Homo sapiens: one gene and its partner. The protein of the gene in region 1 interacts with the protein of each later gene in a pairwise test. Each region holds a gene or a part of one and is shown in the gene's direction. Other genes may lie near its edges.

Region 1 (7,237 bases):
TAGAAAGTTACTAACATTTTTATTGAATTAAGAGAACAGTTTTCTTTGAATATAACATACGCTATAGTCTAGATAGTTTATGGCATTAGAATTCTAGGATGCAAAAACTAGAGGAAGGATATTTAGGAGAAGTAGAGAACTGCCTTATAAAACAAGGAGAAGTTCTGATTACAGACCATCAGTCTAGGTCCCTTCAGTAAAATATTTCTAGAATGCAAAAGAATTATAGATAAATGTAGTTCAATAAACTTGTTTGTTAAGAACATCCAATTCCTTTTTGGACAGCTCTGTGTTTACCTAGTCTAGAACTTGGTTTCACTTACTAGGAAAAAACTCAGAAGTTTACTCTTTAGAAAAGCATTACCATATAATTTGAAATTATATCAAACCAGTTTAAATATTTTTGTTTAAAAGGTACTTAAATATAAATGTGCTATTTGCTTTTTTCCCCCAGAATTCTATTTAGGTCAGTATTGAAATATTTCTTGATAATCGTTAGTGAAAATTCATGAATTTTTTTTTTTTTAAAGACAGAAAAGTTTGTCCTTAGACTCCATCAGAATTACTGAAGTGGTATTTTCAGTGAAATCTCATCTCTCTGTTTAGTTTACTGACTTGACATCGTGATGTTTATATTGACTACAGTAGATTTATTTCTTTATTACACAACTCTTAGTGAACTTGTGTACGTTAGAATACATTGTCAATATAAATATTCACTATGTTGTTAGAAAACTAATGTTACTGTGTATATTTATATGTACACACATACATATGAAGAAAAAATACCAATTTTTCATATGACATATTTTTTCTGTTGAACTCATTTAACATACAAGTATTTTGTTTGTTAAAACATTGGTAATAACAAGATGAATAAGATGTACATTCTGCCTTTGTGAGGATTCTACTATACAGAGAGGACAATTCTTCAGCTTACTGTAGAATATATGACAATGAGTTCTATGGTGTACAGTTGGAGTACTGTGCACAGTAGGAGTACTGTGTACATGGGCAGTTAGGGAAAGTGGCATTAGAACGAGGTCTTCAAAGAATGAGAAGAGTCAGTAAGCAGAAGAAACAGACTATTTCAAGATAGAGAGTTAGGAAAGAATATTGTTTAGTTGGAGAATAACATGAAGTTGCCAGTGACAGGAGATTAGGTTTATGTGCATTGAGTGGGTAAGAAAGAGAAAATATAAAATTACAGAGAGTGTTGAAAGTGGAGTTATGGCTTAGGGCCAGATTGTGAAGGCTTCATATATGTGGTAAGATGTCTTAACTTGCTATAACTTTTAAAGAAATGCTTTTATTTTTAAAAGGGAAAATGCTATTATATTTGGTGCTTAGAAAAACATTTTTTGTTGCAATGTAAAGTACAAACTTGATAGTGGCTATATTTGGGGTAAGAATCCAAATTTGGGGGCTATTGCAGTAGTCAAAGTAAGAAGTAAGGAATGGAAATTGGATTGGAGAGTATAACATAAGGAAGGAATATTTTAACCATTATAATAAGTAATATGTGATTAATGCATGTGTGGATTGAAGGCAAAAGGAATAGAGTATAATTTGGCTCAACAGGATGGAATGTTGGTGCCATCTCTTAAGATTTAAAATGCACGAGAGAGAAGGAAATCTTTTAGAGAGGCATGTCAAGATTCTGTAAGTTTATCTCTTTGGAAATGTCTAAAATGTCTAAAGTCTAAAAAATAATGAACTGTGTCAAAAATCTTGATGTACCATAACTGTTTTGTGCATTTGGTTTTCTTTCTTTTCTTAGATTTCTATAGGAAGCCACTGCCTCCCCTGGCTGTGCCACAGCGACCTAACAGTGATGCTCATGATGTGATCTCATAAACAAGACGTATGGAGGAGTTCTCTTAATATCAGCAAGGTGAACTGGGACATTCTTCTTTCTCAGAAGAAGAAACATCTTGTAAATTGATGACTGGGGCAAGATAACCATAATAATTTTAGTGAGAAGATTAATACTCAAGGACCTGACTTGATAATTACTTATTTGTGTTTTTCATGGTTAAAAAAATAAAAGAAGCACAATGACCAGTACATGAAATCAGCATTTGGACCAAATTAGCAAGATTTACTGTTGACTCTGGTTTATACATCCCCACTCATGAGCATACTTCTGAAGGAAAACTTTACAAAAAGAGCCAATGGACTCAGCACTTTCTTTACTATTTGTTCAATAGCCTATATTTCTAGATATTAAATATTTTTTGTAAGATATATGCACATAGAAGGGGGACTTCTAGGAATTTATAACCAAAATTTTAAAACTATTTTTATATTTTTTTAAATCTTTAAAAATTTTAATTACTGTGATATTGATTATACACCTTTTTTATAGATGATTTGTTTAAATTATATCTGGAAAATAGAGTTGATTTACTTTCAGACATGAACTATACAAACAGGATATATTTATATGGCTTGAGGTATGTTTTGTAATAGCGTTGTTCTTTAAGTGTACATCGTAATTTGACCTAATTTAAAAATAATATATTTTCGAAGTAGTAGATTCTCAGATCTTTATTCTAACAATTACATGATTTGAAAACAGTACTCAATGAGACTGGAAATACCTTTTGTACCTAAATGTTTTTTAAATTAATCAAAATACATTCTGTGAGATACTATTAAAAGTCTCAGTAAAGTCCTATTTTAAAGGTTAGACACTTTCAGAGATCAAGGTGCTCCCTATACTCCCTTGTTCCATCAGAAGCTGCAGTGACTCTTTTAGGTGATTCTAATTCTTTCATGCCTTGAAATTAAACTATGAAATTAAAGGCAGAAAAACTGGAAAACCTACTGCAGGTCCAGAGACTTCTGTTTTACAACTGGGAAACAGCTTGTGTACTAAAGTAATGAGAATAAAAATGTTGGCCCAAAATTACTTTTATAAATAAATAATTCCAAAATAATTTCTTAATTTAAAATGATAGCACTTCTCTTGCACTTAAGAATGGCATCCATAAGATTCTGTATTTGGCATTTAGACTAACTTCTAGATGTATATTTTTAATAATAGATTCATAATGTTACATTTAATTGAAAACAAACCTTTATATCCAATGAAAATAGTATAAACAGAATGATTTTTATACCACCTTGTTAAGATTGGTGCTTTTGGTAACTTGTACTGACACAACAGACATGTGCTAGTATCTGATAACATTAAGTACATTTTATGTCGTTTAATATAATTATTTACTTTAAAAATTGTACTTCAGAACATCAGATTTTATTCACATTTTTTAACTCACTGAACTTTAATAATCAGGTCACCTGTACTCTAGTCAGCACTGTATATATTCTTGGAGTTTGTACATGGGACTTAGCAACCACACTGAGTGAGGTAAAAGCATTTGATTTCAGATCTAAAATTCGTAACAACCTAAATTTGAGAGGTGGCTGAAATGTGATGAAAAGCAATACGAAAAGACAATGTAAACTTTGAAAAGGATTTTAGAGGGAAAATTGCATAGCTTTTTGTAACATTTACTTAATTTTAAAACTAAACTCATACTTTTGCTATCTTTTTAATATTTATCTCGTTTGGGAGTATACGTGTTTTTAAAATTTGTGTTTTCTATCTGTTTACTATAGTGTAGCTACTGGCTTCATTTAATAAAAATAAATGATTTTGAAATTAAATATAATATAGAATTCACATTTTATATAGCTCTCTCAAAAATTAATTTTTATTCCTTAAGCATTTTAAAAACATTTTAAAAAATGTTTTGTAAATCCAGGTGTATTTTAACAATTAAATGCCTATTTTGTTATATGTTATACTTTTATTCTTAATTCTGAATTTTGACATTTTCACACAATAAAAATAATTTATATCAATATTCTGTTTCTCTTTTCAATTGGTAGATTTAAATGATTTCCTTTGGGTAATAAAATAGGTAAAGATTTTAAAATATGATTATTGAAAAACAGTTTAAATCAGTAGATTAAAATAATGCATTTTTTTGATACTTTACACACAAAACTTTTTTCTCTCTGCAAGTTTTTATGTATGTGGGAAAGAATTTGTGATTTTAAATGCAGCTACAAATAGCATTTCACCATATGATGTTAGAGGATTTGATGTCTGTCTTGCGTTAAAGCTGTTGGTCAACAGATATGTTTTTATGTATTTAAAAGAGGCTCTTGTGTGCCTTTATGTGTAAAATGCATATTACGTAGTATACATGATATTGTATGTAACTGACTTCAAATATAAAACTATGCATAGAAACAACACTAGAAAGAAATGTAGTTTGGCTTACTTTTGTAGTGAGGGAGGCAAATTTATAATATTGTATAAATTATTTAAGTACCATGTTTTCTGCAAGTTTAAAATTAAGTGCTTTTATAAATGCCAGATTAAGACTACAATTCCCTTAATATGTAAAACCTGTGAACATCGTGGAGCAGTTCACCTGCAGAATACAACTAAAGAAATCAAATGCTTCTAGGTAGCAAAAGCTATTCACAAGCTAAATTGTTTATACATATAAAGCTGTAGCTTATAAACTTTATCATCCTTGGCTTTACTTAGTAAATTTTTTTGCTAAGTGGAATATGCTTTGCAACTGAGATTCTGCTAATAATGGTTTATTAATTTATCAGGAAGTATATTCCAACTGATCCAAAGAACAAATTCAAATATTTTAAAATTTTCAATTAAGCATGGCATAGGTTATCAAAATAGCAATAATCCTTTATCTTTACAGAAACAGAATAATAGATACCTGTTTTTTGAGGGGGGAAAAAAAGAAAGCCAGAAATTAACTTCCTTTAATGAAAGAGATCAGCTTATAATTAAATGGAAAATAGGAAAAAAGTTCATTTGCTTGTTGAGGGCTTAACTTGTAAGTTCCTTCTGTGTGCGGATGAGGAAATCATTTACAACCTAGGTAAGTGGATCAGTGGTTTCCAAGTTTTTATTATAATATCTTCTATCAGAAAACATTTTTAATATACATTGATGTTTATGTTATTGTATTAGTTTGCTAGGGTGGCCATAACAAAGTATCACAGACAAGTTGCTTAAACAACAGAAATTTATTTTCTCAGTTCTGGGGACTGGTAGTCTGAGAGCAAGTTGGTGGGTTTGCTTTCTCCTGAGGCCCCTCCTTGCCTGATAGATAGACACTGTCTTGTGTCCCCACGTGGCCTTTTTTCTCCACCCACCCCCACTGTCTCTGTGTGTTCGATTTTCCTCTTTTTATGACTTCTTATAACTTAACTTTGTAAAGGCCCATCTCCAAATATAGTCACATTCTGAGGTACTGGGGGTTAAGGCATCAACGTGAATTTTGGGGGGACAAATTTCAGCCCATAACAGTTAACATACTTGTTCTACTGCACTATGTACATTTTAAATACACTTCCCTAAAAAAAGAAATTTTAAAAGACTACATAAAGCTTAATAAAAATAAAAGTCATTATATTTACTTCCTAGACACAGTGGATTGTCTGCTGGAGTTTGTACAGACCACATTGGAGCCCTGAAATTTAGTAAAATGAGAATCTCACCTGACGTTTAAGCCTAAGATTGCCTATAACTATGCTGTGTTCTGTAGCATTGATCACAGGTTTCCTGTTGTGTTTTCCTGTTGTTTTTCTGCCATATATTTTAAGGAGCTCAGGGCTCTCTTGATGTCATATTGTTTTACTACAAAGCGTCTCCTTACCTTTTTGACAACATAAACCTCTATATGAACATGAAGGGTTTTGACACATTTTATATAAATATGAAAATTCATAAAACATAGTTTAGGAGTTATTCCATAAATTACTCTGAAATACTTCTTAAGACCAACTGACCTTATAATAAAATTGCTTAGATATGTAAAAATTTGTTTCCTGCCTAGAGGTACGTCCTTATTAAGCTGCTTGGTTCTTTAACGCTAACATTAAAAAAAGCACAAAAAACAAACTAATGTGATTTATGTTATTTGTGTCAGCTCAATGTCTTATGTCTGCAGTGGTTTAATTCAAGTTTGCTGCTAACAGTTTTTATTCCTAAAACTCAATGTAGAATTGTTTGTTCTTTGGTAGCTATTTGGGGTGCGGATGGGGAGTAAAATCCATTAACATTCTCATGATACACATATATTGATTCTAGATAGATTAAGAGGTTAAACATAAAAGATCAAACTATGAAAAGGTAAGGGGAGAAACAGAAGTGGCTTCACTCGGGGAAAAAATGTATAAGCCTGAAAGCAGTGGAATCAATAAACTCAATTTACAATGCACAAAAAAAATTTTAAAATACCTTCACACTTAAAGTCAAATGGTTATAAGAAAAATTGAGAAAGTGTTTTAACATCTGACATGGTTATCTCAAATATAAATAAAATGATACTAAGACACCTATAGATAAGTGGACATGAGCGGTAATCTAAAAAAGAAATAACTAATAAGATTTGAAAACCTACCCAAACTAAGGGCATAATTAACTAGGCATTATAAGGAGATTATTAGAGATTCAGACAAAATTCATAAGCAAAGTTGTTTATTTAAAATCAGAAAATATAAAGATGCTGAGTCCCAAAAATGTGATAAAATTAATATGACCTCTTTCCAAGTATAACACATTGCCTTTCTCTAACAGAAATAAACTATGATTCTTATTACAGTCTTAAAATTCTTTTTTTAATGAATGAGTGTAACTTTTTATTAAGATAGAATTATTTTTATTAAAGAAATATATGAAAATGGTTAAGTAAAATCAAATGGCTCCAAAAGTCTTACAATGAAAACAGTCCTGCGACTTGTTCTTTCCAGAGGAAAGCACTTTTCATTCTCTTAGTTTTTCCTTCTGGTAGTTACCTCCATGGGTTTTAAAAAATTACTATTTTTTTAGTTTTTCAAGTGAATACATATATTAATACATGTAATCTTTAAAAGCCTCTTCAGTTTATAATGCATCCTAACAGTCCCCTGCCCCATCCCTCCTAATTCTCTGGAGCAATGACTTCTAACTCTTCTAGCAATGTTCCATTCTTTTCTTCACATAACTACTTAGTCATTTCTTGATTATGTTATACATTATATAGTGATTTCTTGATATGACAGATGAGGATTTAGCTCTTACACCATCACTATCTTCACTTTTCCCCCCATATTGTCCCAAAGTAGTTACCAGATTTAGGGGCTAAGCAGTCAGTCACCACATCATTATGACTATGTACATATTGCCCATTGTTGAGAAAAACAG
Region 2 (3,275 bases), on another chromosome or scaffold:
AATGAATCATAGGTGAAGGAGTAAGGAGTTGAGGGAGACAGAGTTAGTGGAACTACTGAAACAACCTGTCCAATTAATTTGGACCTCCAGAATAGGCTCTGAGAAGAAGCCACAACTATCTTCCAACTAGACCGAATCCCTGAGGTCTTGTCTCCTCATGTTATCTGCTCCTGAAGGGGTTTGGAAATCTCCAGGGTTTTTCAGGTTTGTGGAGAAAGACTAGGACAACCACTGACCAGCAACTGCCCTGGCACTTGGTAGGGCTATGATGGATTTACTGAATGTTGAAGCAGAAAGTGAAATGCAAACCAATTTTAGTATTGCATGCCCTATGTTAATCTCTGGTCAGCACTGAGTGTTCAAAGACAGTAGGACGTCGGTTGCTGACCTGCCTCTTAGAAGCTAGTTTAACTCAGCGGGTAAGGATCTAGGACTTCTACATTAGTTACCACTGTAATGATAACACCACCAGAAAAGTCTGTAGTTTAATATTTCCCACCTTATGCCTGTTTCTTCATTCACGCAAAGAAAATAAAAATATAATACCTAAGCCTCTTTGTATTACATAAAGCAAAATGCAAAGCACTGTATCTTCCAAATACTTCCTCTTGATATGGTGGAATTATAGAGTAGTATCATTTGTAACTGAAATGTCTTCTAGGGTTGCTATGCGAAAGCAAGACTGTGGTTTCATTCCAATTTCCTGTATATCGGAATCATCACCATCTGTGTATGTGTGATTGAGGTAAGAGCTTAACCACAGGGTTATTGTGAGGATTACATGAGTTAAGTCAGGTAAGATTTCAGAATAATACCAGGTACACAGTATTTACACAATAAATGTTAGCTATTTTTACTAATATATGAATTCCCCCAGCCAAGTAGCAAATAATGTAATTAACAATTTGCTTTAAGGTATATAGAAAATGTGCTATAAGAACATCTCTTGGCCGGGCGTGGTGGCTCACGCCTGTAATCCCAGCACTTTGGGAGGCTGAGGCAGGCAGATCACGAGGTCAGGAGATCAAGACCATCCTGGCTAACATGGTGAAACCCCGTCTCTACTAAAAATACAAAAAATTAACCAGACGTAGTGGCAGGTGCCTGTAGTCCCAGCTACTTGGGAGGCTAAGGTAGGAGAATGGCGTGAACCTGGGAGGCGGAGCTTGTAGTGAGTCAAGATCGTGCCACTGCACTCCTGCCTGGGCGACAGAGCGAGACTCTGTCTCCAGAAAAAAAAAAAAAAAAAGAACATCTCTCTGGTCAATTCATTCCTCAGAGATATGAGTGATTCACATGATTCACAGTCAAACAAAAAAGCCACCAAGCAGAATCCCACTGTGATCCCTCCTCAGCTGGTCTGAAAAATACGAATTGATAAAGTATTTCATTTGAAAACCTGATCTTGCATGTTAAGGGGCTGATGACGAAAATTGTAATCAATTTCCTCTTTGTTTCTGTGCTTAGTTTGACAAGTGATGGGTGAATTGAGGGTAGTTTTTTGTCCTTTTTAATAAAAAAGGACAAAAATAATGTGATATTTCTAACATTTTTCTACCCAAAGTGTTGGGTATATCATAGATTAGTTAAAACTCAATCAGGAAGCTCAGAGAAAATGATTTTTCTCTGTTTGGAAACAAAGGAGGCACAGAGCATGGATAGAGATAACTCATTGCACAGTGTTCAGTGAGCAGAATATGACCATCCTAGCAGCAAGGCTTCTGTGACTTCCTCAGAAGATAAAACATGCTCCAGTACTTTACAGCCTGTTATCTTGTCATCATTGACCCCGTTTCTCTCCTCACTGCTATTCTTTAACCAAAGGAAAGAGCTCCTGAGAGAGACTTGAAAGTAATGGTTGGAAGGGTGGTTTCAGTGTAATGGATACATTCTTTTTCTCAGAGGCCAATCCCAGGCATTGTGAAAGAAATGGCTTTTCTTATGAAGACTTCAAATTTTCCCAACTCTTTTCACAGGTGTTGGGGATGTCCTTTGCACTGACCCTGAACTGCCAGATTGACAAAACCAGCCAGACCATAGGGCTATGATCTGCAGTAGTCCTGTGGTGAAGAGACTTGTTTCATCTCCGGAAATGCAAAACCATTTATAGCATGAAGCCCTACATGATCACTGCAGGATGATCCTCCTCCCATCCTTTCCCTTTTTAGGTCCCTGTCTTATACAACCAGAGAAGTGGGTGTTGGCCAGGCACATCCCATCTCAGGCAGCAAGACAATCTTTCACTCACTGACGGCAGCAGCCATGTCTCTCAAAGTGGTGAAACTAATATCTGAGCATCTTTTAGACAAGAGAGGCAAAGACAAACTGGATTTAATGGCCCAACATCAAAGGGTGAACCCAGGATATGAATTTTTGCATCTTCCCATTGTCGAATTAGTCTCCAGCCTCTAAATAATGCCCAGTCTTCTCCCCAAAGTCAAGCAAGAGACTAGTTGAAGGGAGTTCTGGGGCCAGGCTCACTGGACCATTGTCACAACCCTCTGTTTCTCTTTGACTAAGTGCCCTGGCTACAGGAATTACACAGTTCTCTTTCTCCAAAGGGCAAGATCTCATTTCAATTTCTTTATTAGAGGGCCTTATTGATGTGTTCTAAGTCTTTCCAGAAAAAAACTATCCAGTGATTTATATCCTGATTTCAACCAGTCACTTAGCTGATAATCACAGTAAGAAGACTTCTGGTATTATCTCTCTATCAGATAAGATTTTGTTAATGTACTATTTTACTCTTCAATAAATAAAAGTTTATTATCTCAATCACAACATTGCTATATATCAAACACTCCTTCCATGACCCAGCCTGATTACCCTGATTAATGCACCAAACCAGGTGTATTAATTGTCTCCTGCTGCATAAAATATTACTCCAAAATTTAGTGGCTGAGGACAACAAACATTTATTATCTCATGGTTTTTGTGGGTCAGGAATCTAGGAGCAGCTTAGCTGGGTGATTCTGGTTCACAGTCTCTCATGTAACTGCAATCAACATGTCAGCCTGGGCTGCAGTAACCTTAAGGCTCAACTGAAAGAGGATCTACTTTCAGGCTCTCTCACATCGCTGTTGGCAAGCCTCAGATCTTTGCCACTTGTGCCTTTCCACGGGGCTTCCTTATGACATGGAAGCTGGCTTCCCCCCATTTAAAGACATCCAAGAAAGGGCATGAGATTCGGCACCCAAAACAGAAGCCACAGTTTGTTGTTTTTGTTGTTGTTGTTTTGAGATGGAGACTTGCTTTGTCACATAGGCTGGAGTGCA

Evidence for each region. The genes of interacting proteins can lie anywhere in the genome.
Region 2: the proteins of ARL13B (region 1) and CD53 interact in binary tests that used the Homo sapiens proteins (3 or more experiments, as listed by UniProt).

What each region holds. Positions count from the first base shown.
Region 1 is NC_000003.12:94,051,407-94,058,643, forward strand, and holds the end of ARL13B (ADP-ribosylation factor-like protein 13B), read left to right. Parts: intron 1-1,780; coding exon 1,781-1,857; 3' UTR 1,858-4,272; downstream 4,273-7,237. UniProt on the Homo sapiens protein: Cilium-specific protein required to control the microtubule-based, ciliary axoneme structure. May act by maintaining the association between IFT subcomplexes A and B. Binds GTP but is not able to hydrolyze fit; the GTPase activity remains unclear.
Region 2 is NC_000001.11:110,897,148-110,900,422, forward strand, and holds the end of CD53 (leukocyte surface antigen CD53), read left to right. Parts: intron 1-661; coding exon 662-745; intron 746-1,976; coding exon 1,977-2,048; 3' UTR 2,049-2,775; downstream 2,776-3,275. UniProt on the Homo sapiens protein: Structural component of specialized membrane microdomains known as tetraspanin-enriched microdomains (TERMs), which act as platforms for receptor clustering and signaling.